Homo sapiens: one gene and its partners. The protein of the gene in region 1 interacts with the protein of each later gene in a pairwise test. Each region holds a gene or a part of one and is shown on either strand. Other genes may lie near its edges. The genes, in order: ABCB5, CCND2 and PSMB9.

Region 1 (4,392 bases):
TACCTGGGCGAAGGGATTATTCACACCTCAATCCTCAGTGTCACACAATGAACTCATGTAACAAACCTGCCTGCACAGGTAAGCTCTAAATCTAAAATAAAAGTTGAAATTATATAAAAGGTGAAGATAGCCATATAAATGAAATACTGATACATGCTACATAAATAAACCTTGAAAGTATTATGGTAAGTACAATAACCCAATCACGAAAGACAACATACTATATAATTCCATTAATATGAAGTGCCTAGAGCAGGCAAATCCATAGAGAAAAAAGTAAGTTAGTAGTTGCTGGGTGGAGGAGAAATAGAGATGACAGCTAATGAGAGGGATACAGGGTTTCTTTTCAAGATGATAAAACCACTATAAATTGAATGTGGTGATGGCTGCTCAACTCTATGAATATACAAAAACTTTTGAATTGTACATCTTAAATGGGTACATTCTATGATATGTGAATTATATCTCAATAAAGCTGTTAGCAAAAAAGGGTAATCTTAAAGTTTCTAACCATTATTACAGAAGTTTTTATTTCTCTCTGCTTCTGTCAGTGTTTATTTAGGAGCTGTGATATTTTGTGGCTGTGTGCTTATAGTTGTTATATCTTCTTGGTGATTTGACTGTTTTATCACTATCTAATGTTCTTTGTTGTCTCTTATAAAAGGTTTTGACTTGAGGTGTAACTTGTCTGGATATTACTATAACCATTCCAGCTCTCTTTTGGTTAATATTTGCAGGATTATCTCTTTTTATCCTTTTGATTTTAACCTATTTGCCTTTAGATCTAAAATGATTCTCTTATTGACAGCATACAGTTAGATTATATATTTTTAATCCATTATAAAAATGCGATTTTTGGGTCTCACTCTAAAACTTCTGAATAGAATCTGCATTTTAACAAGATTGTCGAAGTGGTTTGTAATGCATATCAAATTTTGAGAAACATGACTATATAGTATCTAGCACAAAGCCTTGAGAAACAGAAGGCACTACTTATCTAGAGGAAATTTTATCTTCCTAAATCCAAGATTATAAAAATAAAGTTTAAAATACACCTTAGTGCTGACAACATATTGTTTTTATCTGCTGTTAATAGCACAGTTTTAAAGTATTGTCAAAGGACCTCTGGCATCAGAATCACCTGGAGTGCATGTTAAAGATATCAGACACCTACCTAGGCCTTGCCCCACATGTACTGAATGATAATCTAAAGAAATGCACTGGAAAAAAATCTACATTTTAAACAAGCTCATTAGATGATTTTTTAAAAAAATTTACTCATTCTATAGATATATACTGTGCCAGGTACTGTTTTAAGCACTGAACAGCCTAGACATCTTTGCTGTCATAGAGCTTAGACTCCATTACAGGGAGAGTCACAATTTTAAAAAAAGGCATACATAAATAAGGAAAATTAGAGAGTGGTCAGTTTTTGGTATATAATTAAAACAGGGTAATTTTATGAAGAGTAATGTGGTATTTATATACATCTGGTCAGAGAAAGCCCCTTGTAGAAGATAATGTTTAAGCTGCAATCTGAATTATAAAAGGAGGTTGCTATATAAAGATCAAAAAGACTATCCCAGGCAGAAGGAATACTATTTAGATAGTAGAGAAAAGTGCACTGAGACAAAGCGACACAAGGTCAAAGCAATTTGTGAGCCAGTTGGCAGGTCCTCACTGTATGGAAAGCTACAGGTTGACTATGATGGCTGCCCCCATGTTCCTCTCTGTTACCCAATGTTTCAAAAGGAAGATAAATTTAACTTGAAACTTGTCAAGTTTGAGATATTTGTGAGATAATCAGGTAGTAATATCCAGCACTAAGTAGATAACATGAGAGAAGAACTCTGAACATCTTAATTGCTCTACACAAAATCTATCAGTCAGCCAATTCTTACTTATTGACAGCTGTGTGGATGCTATCATGGCAAGTACTATGGAACATACAAGAAAATGTAAAAATAGACAGAATATTTTATTTATAAGGACTTTTGCCTTAAAAAATATTTCTAGGTTCATGTACCAAGATGGAAATCATAGGACAAAATACCCATGTGAGAAGAAATCATGAGATGCACTTAACGTTCAAGCATCCTTGGTAAGAATAATCTGACAAATAGCTAAGATATACTGGTTGGATGGAAAACATGGGATCTTTGGTTAGATGAAAGAAGATATGGCTGGGCGCAGTGGCTCATGCCTGTAATCCCAGCACTTTGGGAGGCCAAGGCGGCTGGATCATCTGAGGTCAGGAGTTCGAGACCAGCCTGTCCAACAAGGTGAAACCCCATCTCTACTAAAAATAAAAAAATTAGCTGGGCATGGTGCTGGGCACCTGCAATCCCAGCTACTCAGAAGGCTGAGCCAGGAAAATCTCTTGAACCCTGGAGGCGGAGGTTGCAGTGAGCCAACATCGTGCCACTGCACTCCAGCCTGGGTGACAGAGTGAGACCCTGTCACAGGGAAAGAAAGAAAGAAGATATGAATTGTATGGATGCTTTAAAATGACCAAAATAATAGTAGGATGATCATTTCTGACTATGAAAAAGTTTCATACACACACATTTTTGTTTCCATCTTTACCACAAACTATTCTTTCTAAGATGGAGAAGTGTTTTATATTCTTCACAAGCTTCAATTGTTTTCATAATCTCTAATACTTTTGCTTTGACTTACTTTAATTCCTTAGATGCTGTTTTGAGTGGGCCCCATCCAGTCAGTTGAAGTCCTTAAGAGAAAAGACTGAAGTCTTCTGAAGAGGATAGGATAAAGCTTTCAGATACAAGGTATCAATTTTTTGCCAGAATTTCCAGCCTTCTAGTCTGGCTTGTGGATTTTGGAAGTGCCAGTCACCACAATTACATGAGCGTGTTTTCTCTTTCTCTCTCTACATACACACACACACACACACACACACACACACACACACACGGCCTATTGATTCTATTTCTCTAGGGGAACCTAATATACCTGGCAAGACAGACGTTATGTGATGAATAGTACAAAGAGTGACTATTCTAGTATCTAAGAAGACTGAGGAAGAACATTGTGATCTAAAATGGTTTCGCCCACAGATGAGGATGGCCCTGAGGTTAGTTTCTGGAGGAAGGCTAAGGTTTCAGTAAGTAGAAAAATGTGGAGGAGGAACAAGGGCATAGTTTTAGGAATGCAAGGTGAATTATCTCATGGTAGAGAAATGAGAACGGTTTGGATAGGATGGACTGTTCATGCAGAAATGGAGAGAGAGATAAGGTACATACGATTGTAAAAGGCACTGAACCAATTTTTAGGACAACTTTTATAATTTTCTGGAATGAAAGAGACAAAGCCATTGGTATTTGGTACAATTAACCTGATTATTTGACATTACAGCCATGGATATACTGGAAGGACTTGGGGAAACACAAGATTTAAGTAGACTCATTAAAATCTAGTTTGATAGCAGTAAGTAAGACTATTTGAGAGGTATTTTTAAGGCGGTAGGTAGGTAAAGAGGACAAGGAAGAAGAAATAAAAAAAATATAAGTTCAGCGATCAAACTTTTAAAAGTTGTAACAAAAGAGTAGTAAAGATGGTAATAGAGAAGTTATGAGACAGAATTGGTTTTGGGGAAATGGTAACATTCAGTTTAAATATGCAAATTTGGGTTGATATTGGTGTCCAAGTGAAAATATCTGGCAAACAGATGTAAATGTGGCACTAATAATTAGGAAAATTGCCAACCTAGAGATAAACTTGCAATTGTCATATGCACAGAAGGAATAATTAATTTTGCTTTAAAAATCTCATGATGTCATCTAAATGCACAGAAGTGGTGTAATGTAGCTAAAAGTGTTACTTCTAGAGCAGAGCCATCCAACAGAACTTTCTGCAATAATTGAGATATTCTCCACACATCCAATATCCTAGCCGCTACACATATGTGGCTATTGAGCGCTTTTAATGTGCCTAGTGAGGGAGCTGAATTTTGAGTTTTATATAATTTTAATTAATTTATTTTATTTATTCAGCTTTAATATGTATAATTGACAAATACTATTGTCTATATTTAAGGTTTACAACATGATGATGTGATATACATATACATTGTGAAATGATTACTGCAATGAGCACATCCATCACTTCACATATTTACGTGTTTGTGTGTGTGCGTGTCTGGTGAGAACGCTTAAGATCTACTCTCTTAGCAAATTTCAAATATACAATACAGAATTATTAACTGTAGTCACCATCCTGTACCCATCTTATAACTGGAAGTTTGTACCCTTTGACCAACATCTCCCCATTTCCTCCACCTCCTAGTCTCTGGTAACCACCATGCTACTGTCTGCTTCTAGGAGTTTGACTTTTTTTGGATTTCACACATATCTCTGGCTTATTTCACACAAC
Region 2 (3,652 bases), on another chromosome or scaffold:
TTGCCCCAGCATCAAGTTAGCAGCATTGTTAGACACCGTGGATCCCTGAGCCAAGCACAGCCCTCCCCTCCCATCATGAACGCAGAGCAAACCTGGCCATCTGCCTGTCTCCTTGGCTTTTTCTCCATTGCCCTCTCACCATCTCCACCTCTTGAGGGACGTATATAATGGTGCTGCGCCCACGCCTGCTGTCCACCCGCCCCTCCTACGCCTTCTCTGTCGCCATGAACAGTGTGACAAAGCCAGCCTCCCTGCCTCTTGCTCTGCTGTAGGTCTCTTCCACATGGGTCACAGGAGAGTGTTTCTCTGCCCAATAACCTCGTTAGCTCCCCCCTGTGACATTCATAACACAAGCGGGGCAGCCGGCCCATGGCCCTGGGCCCACAAAGGCCCGGGTGGGAGCATCTGCCAGGGAAGAGGCAGGCAAGTATCCCCGGCCCTCCCTTCCCTCTGCCATAGGCCTCAGACCGGGAAGCACACCTCACACATGCCCATCTCTGCTGTCCCACTGCTAGCAAAACCAACTCTTATTATTGGCATACGAATGAACTTCTGGAAGCCAGCAGGCATAGGGGGAACAGGTGCACCGGTTGCACAGGGAGACTCTACCTCCCTTTTTGTTTTACTAAGAAGATTTTCAGGGGAGTCCTCTTGGGGACACTGTCCAATCCCACAGAATTGGGGAGCACTATGTGCATGAACTTGACTGCCTCTCAGCAGCTCAGAGTGGCACCAAAGGAGCAGTGTGTTCCCACAGCCAGAGGAGAGACGCCGCTGGAGACGAGGACGGCGGCCGTGCTGCCCTCTGTTGCCCGCTACACAGAAGACGAGCATCTTCCTCGGGATCCCTGAGCATGCCCCACCTCTCCTCCAGGTTAGTCAAATACTGAGGCAACATCAGCCCTCCAGCTAGGTCCAGACGTGGGACTGTGGGCAAGTCACTTCCTCTTTCCAAGGGCTTGGTTTCCCATTTGTCTAATAACGGGTTGGGTGAGATAAGTGTTTTTCTAACTTCTAGCTGCAACTCATTAATGGGTCATGAAATGCATTTGTGGGTCGTGACCAGCACTTTCTGTTGTTGTTCTCCTTTAACCAAATAGAGTAGGATAGAAAGTATCAGGCTCACCGTATGTCGTTAAGAGTAAATATTGTTCGGAGAAACTTTTGTATCAGTTTGATATACTTGTACAAGTATCCTGAGTTGTGTTATAAAATGTGTTTCTTCCTACATGGCTTAGGTCAAGAGTTTAAAGATAGTAAGCAGGATAACCTCCCAGGTGCCTTACAGGTCTACTTTGCTCTTACTTGAGGATCTGGAATGGGAATGACTCCCAAGGAGAAGAACAATGAGGAGACAATAGAATGGATCACGGTGTCTACCAGCCGGCAAATTCACAAAGCAGCCCTCTCCACAGAGCGGCGCTACTTCCCCGTGGCACCAGGGCTGCCCCAGGACCACTCTCAAGGACATCCCCCTCTCTACTGGTAGGGGATACTGAACAGAGAGAAAAACAAAAAAATCAAACATCATTTCATCTGTGCACTAGCTTCCTAGCTGTAATTAGCCAACCCCCACCCTCAACTGTGGAAAGCTCCACCTACCCAATGCAGCCATTCCTGGAAACCATCAGCTTTGTCGCTATGACAGGATGGAGAAATGGTCACAATATCCACTCAGAAGAAGGAAGCGGAAAACCAAATTGCATGCATGCATGCGACGATGAAGATTACAACCATGGGTAAATACATACATATATGCCTATGGATGAACTGGAAGGATGCACGGAAAATAAAAGCTGTTCTGTTAGGTGGGAGAAACACAGATGAGTTTGTAAAATTTGTACGTAATATTATTTTAACAAATAAAAACCAGGTACAAATTTCTCAGCAGTCTGTTAAGTCTCTTGATCAAAAATGCCAACAAGCAATATGCTGGTGCAGAAGGCACGCTCAGGGGTGAGGGTGTGCCCTCGCCATCGTTAATTGCCCACCTGGAGAGGTGAGATGCTGGTGACTTCCTGAGATCCTTCCTCCTGCAGCAGAGAGAGAGGCAATGAACCGATCAGCGATCCATTCTGATCGACTCATGACAATGTGCTCCTCCCTGTTCCAGGCAGCATGGAGGACTCCCCCCAAAACGTACAATATTCAGACTTCTTAAGGCTGGGCATCAATGCATTAGATAGTAGAGGATGGTGTGCTATAATGGCTAGGTCTGTACTACTATATGGATAACTTCTGAAGAAACTTCTCAAAGAAAGGGGGCTCTTGAAGGCTGGGCGCAGTGGCTCACAGTGTAATCCTAGCACTTTGGGAGGCCGAGGTGGGCAGATGACCTGAGGTCCGAAGTTCGAGACCAGTCTGGCCAACACGGTGAAACCCTGTCTGTACTAAAAATACAAAAATTAGCCAGGCATGGTGGCACGCGCCTGTAATCCCAGCTATTCTGGAGGCTTGGGCAAGAGAATCACTTGAACCCGGGAGTTGGAGGTTGCAGTGAGCAGAGATTGTGCCATGCACTCCAGCCTGGGTGACAGAGCAAGACTGTCTCAAAAAAAAAAAAGAAAAAGAAAAGAAAAAAAAAAAGAAAGGAGGCTCTTGAGTGAAGAGGAGCATTTGAGACACTTCTCAGAAGACTCTTCAGGGAGATGGGAAGGATTTGGAGAGTAGACTCAAAAAGCTCCAAGCTGGAACGTGGAGTGCACGGAGCTTGGGCAGCCTCCACTCCTGCCCCAGTCCCCACCAGACCCAGGAGGGCCTTTCTCCAGGTTGCTGCATCTGGAGATCTGAAGAGAGCAGGAGCAGCCACACGCCTTGCCATGGGCAACAGAGGCCGTCCCAGGGCCTAGGGCTCCAGCTCCCCTCCAACCAAAGCAGACCTCTGGAGAACACAGCTCACTGGTTCAGAGTATTAGCTCTGGAATCAGAAGGAGGTGGAATCTCCATCCCACCACCTACCAAGTGTGTGAAGATGAGCAAGTTACCTGACCTCTCTGAGTTTTCATTTTCTGATCTGCAAATAATGACAACAGCAATACCCACGTTGTAGTGCTGTTCTGAGGATTCACTTAAAATAATCCTTGTAAAAGCACAGTGCCTGGTTCAAGGTAAGCAATGAATGTCAGCCAGCATCCTCCCCAACCTGCCCCTCCTCTGCTCTCACTCCTAGTACTTCCTGCAGGACTGTGGTGGGGAGTTCCGACTGGAGATGCTCTCCAGCGTCTGGAGGGATGAGGAGAAAGGCGCCCAGCATCCCTGGATTGCAGGCAGATGCAGGGAGCAGGCCAAGCAGGCCAGGAAGAATGAGGGCTCTGTGCTTCCTGGAGAATCTGTCACTATCCAGTTGTGTATGTGTCCCAGAAATGACATCATCGAGTCCCCAAAGCCTCCTGCTGCTTTGCAGAACTGGGAGAAAGTGCAGCCCCACAGGGGAATGAAAAGAACCCCATGAACACTCAGCGAATGGAAGAGAGAAGTTGGCAACTCTAACCCAGCACATTCCACAATTCATTGAGATGCAGTTCACCCGAGCCAAGGAACGATGCCCAGATAACCAGGAACACCCGACATTCCCGCCTCCCTCCTGGCAAAATGGTGGAGGCAAAGGACACACCTTAGGGGAATCCCAGCTGGACCCACAGGCGCCAGGGGC
Region 3 (3,312 bases), on another chromosome or scaffold:
AAATACAAACATTAGCTGGGCTTGGTGGTGGGTGCCTGTAATCCCAGCTATTCGGGAGGCTGAGGCAGGAGAATCACTTGAACCAGGGAGGCGAAGTTTGCAGTGAGCCCAAGATTGATCCACTGCACTCCAGCCTGGGTGACAGAGTGAGACTGTCTCAAAAAAAAAAAAAAAAAAAAAAACCTGAGTTTTAACTTGGTGACTGTTGACTCCCTCCTGACAGCGAGGCGGTGGTGAACCGAGTGTTTGACAAGCTGTCCCCGCTGCACGAGCGCATCTACTGTGCACTCTCTGGTTCAGCTGCTGATGCCCAAGCCGTGGCCGACATGGCCGCCTACCAGCTGGAGCTCCATGGGTATGAAGCTCTGGAGTTCTGACTCCCCACCCACTAGAGCTCCCCCAACCTGCATGAATCCCTGTACAGTGTGCTGTTCCAGGAGCTGGACACTGGGAAATGGAAAAGTCTTGTTTCGGCTCTTGCTGGCACTTGAATCTGTCAGTTTCTGCATCTGTAAAGTGGAGATAATATAGTACCTCATGAGACGGTTATTTTGAGAACCACATTCTATATGTGAACACAGTTTAAAAGCTGTAAATCACTATCCTGATATAAATAATCAGGAAGAAGGTGATATTGTGACCCACCATAATATCAGGCAGTTACCATACGAGAAATCAAGGTCGTTGGGACGGAAGTAACCTTATCTGCTTTTCCCCATAAGAGCAGGGTCCTTGCAGCCAAAAGAAAGTTATGTGGGTGGGGCTGAGCAAAAGAGTGAGCAATTGAAAGCTTCTTACCAGTTGGTGGTGTGGGACTCTGGTTCCCCTGTACATGTGGGAGGGAGGCTGCAGTTTGAGCTATTGCAGTTACAGTTTTCAGGGGTCGTTTAGCAGGGATGATGGTAACAGTATAGGAGAATGAGACTTAAAATTCTATCAACCTTTATTCCTAATATTTCCCTCAGGATAGAACTGGAGGAACCTCCACTTGTTTTGGCTGCTGCAAATGTGGTGAGAAATATCAGCTATAAATATCGAGAGGACTTGTCTGCACATCTCATGGTAGCTGGCTGGGACCAACGTGAAGGAGGTCAGGTGAGTTTCTCCCAAAGCACTCTCTCCTCTGGGCTTCCCCACTCTCCTGCAGAGGAAGATGGAAGTCCTATGTCATTCTAGCAATGAGTTCCAAGGACACTACCTCTGAAAGCATAGTACTTTGGGGATATGAGATACCAGGGCTTCATTGCAGGGTGCAGAGACCACTTAATGTCTCAGTGGGAAGGAAGGGCTTGATGATTCTTTAACCTGAGGATCCCTTTCCCAGGTATATGGAACCCTGGGAGGAATGCTGACTCGACAGCCTTTTGCCATTGGTGGCTCCGGCAGCACCTTTATCTATGGTTATGTGGATGCAGCATATAAGCCAGGCATGTCTCCCGAGGAGTGCAGGCGCTTCACCACAGACGGTAACCAGCCAAGTGGAAGGGTACCTGGGGAGGGCTTTGAAACATGGGAAGGAAGTAGATTATGAGGAACAGGAAGAGAAATACAGGGGTGGCCATTTAAGTTAATGCCGGGCCTGGTACACTTTTAAGAGTGAAAAGGGGCAGGACAAATGCAAAGCTCAATGGGGTTCTTGGGCAATACGGATAAACCAGGGCTGTTCTGAGTAAATCAAATGAGGATACACAGTCACTGTGAGAACCAGTGGTGTGCTAAGCACAGTGGCTCACACCTGTAATGCCAACAATTTGGGAGGCTGAGGCAGGAGGATTACTTGAGCCCAGGAGTTTGAGGCCAGCCTAGGCAAGATGGTGAAACCCTGTCTCCACAAAAAACAATAAAAAAAAGTAAAAAAAAAAATGAACTGGGCATAGTGGTGCACACCTGTAGTCCCAGCTACTCAGGAGGCTGAGGTGGAAAGATCATCTGAGCCGGGGAGATCAAGGCTGTAGTGAGCGGTGATTGCACCACTGCGCTGCAGCCTAGGTGACAGAGAGAGACCCTGTCTGGAGAAAAAAAAAAAAAAAAAGAACCAGTGGTGTGCTGAGGTGTGCTGAGGCTGGCTTGGGACCACTCATGAGAGCGGACTGTTAAATAGTCAAGGATTTGTGAACTGCTTAGCTATTTGTAACTTGCAATTCATCATAGCGGGAGCATTTACACCACGGACATCAGCAGATGCCACATATGGAAGCCTTTTTGTAAAAAAACTGATTTACCAGCACACCACTAAATATGCCTTCCTGGAAGATGAGTTTTGAGGTGAAAGTGGTAGTAGGCATATGGATGGAGGGGGAGTAAAAAGATTTTTGAAGCTAAGCCATCCTCTCTCTCCCTCTCTCCAACTTGAAACCCTCTGCAGCTATTGCTCTGGCCATGAGCCGGGATGGCTCAAGCGGGGGTGTCATCTACCTGGTCACTATTACAGCTGCCGGTGTGGACCATCGAGTCATCTTGGGCAATGAACTGCCAAAATTCTATGATGAGTGAACCTTCCCCAGACTTCTCTTTCTTATTTTGTAATAAACTCTCTAGGGCCAAAACCTGGTATGGTCATTGGGAAATGAGTGCTCAGGGAGATGGAGCTTAGGGGAGGTGGGTGCTTCCCTCCTAGATGTCAGCATACACTCTTTCTTCTTTTGTCCCAGGTCTAAAACATCTTTCCTAGAGAAAACAAAAGGGACTAAACTAGAAATATAAAGAGCCCTATACATGACAGGTGATCACGTACTGAATGATTTTGAAGTAGTACAAACAATAAAAATTCTCATTCCGCATCATCATGCGGTCCATGATGATGAGGCCGCAAGTGAGGTGATGGGACTCTTTCCTTTAAGGCTAAGACTGACAGATAGGCAAGACACCTACACACATGAGAATTAGCTAAGACTATCAGCAAACTCGCATGTAAAAGAATTCCTTTCATAATGCATTCATTCATATTAAAGGGCAATACATGAAAAATGCTTAAATATTTTGGGGCACTTGTGAATTTCAAAGAATAATGACAATAACCAAAAGAAGCTACATTTGTGGCATTGGCTAAATGTTTTATAAATTTTATCTCTTAAAATTCAAACCAAAAAACCCCCTGTATTCACACCTGTAATCCCAGCACTTTGGGAGGTCAAGGCGGGAGGATTGCTTGAGCCCAGGAGTTAGTGACCAGCCTGGGCAACATAGTGAGAACCCCATCTCTACAAAAAAATTTAAAAATTAGTCGGGTGCGGTGGTGCATGCCTGTAGTCCCAGCTGCCTGGGAGGCTGAGTGGGAGGATCGCTTAGGCCTGGGAGTTTGAGGCTACAGTG

Evidence for each region.
Region 2: the proteins of ABCB5 (region 1) and CCND2 come close enough for resonance energy transfer, tested with the Homo sapiens proteins (one large-scale study listed by BioGRID).
Region 3: the proteins of ABCB5 (region 1) and PSMB9 interact in a two-hybrid assay, tested with the Homo sapiens proteins (one study listed by IntAct).

The regions. Positions count from the first base shown.
Region 1 is NC_000007.14:20,614,125-20,618,516, reverse strand, and holds the start of ABCB5 (ATP-binding cassette sub-family B member 5), read right to left. Parts: upstream 2,851-4,392; 5' UTR 2,680-2,850; intron 1-2,679. UniProt on the Homo sapiens protein: Energy-dependent efflux transporter responsible for decreased drug accumulation in multidrug-resistant cells. Specifically present in limbal stem cells, where it plays a key role in corneal development and repair.
Region 2 is NC_000012.12:4,283,656-4,287,307, reverse strand, and holds part of CCND2 (G1/S-specific cyclin-D2), read right to left. Parts: intron 1-3,652. UniProt on the Homo sapiens protein: Regulatory component of the cyclin D2-CDK4 (DC) complex that phosphorylates and inhibits members of the retinoblastoma (RB) protein family including RB1 and regulates the cell-cycle during G(1)/S transition.
Region 3 is NC_000006.12:32,857,040-32,860,351, forward strand, and holds the end of PSMB9 (proteasome subunit beta type-9 precursor), read left to right. Parts: intron 1-223; coding exon 224-355; intron 356-965; coding exon 966-1,095; intron 1,096-1,324; coding exon 1,325-1,466; intron 1,467-2,365; coding exon 2,366-2,493; 3' UTR 2,494-2,812; downstream 2,813-3,312. UniProt on the Homo sapiens protein: The proteasome is a multicatalytic proteinase complex which is characterized by its ability to cleave peptides with Arg, Phe, Tyr, Leu, and Glu adjacent to the leaving group at neutral or slightly basic pH.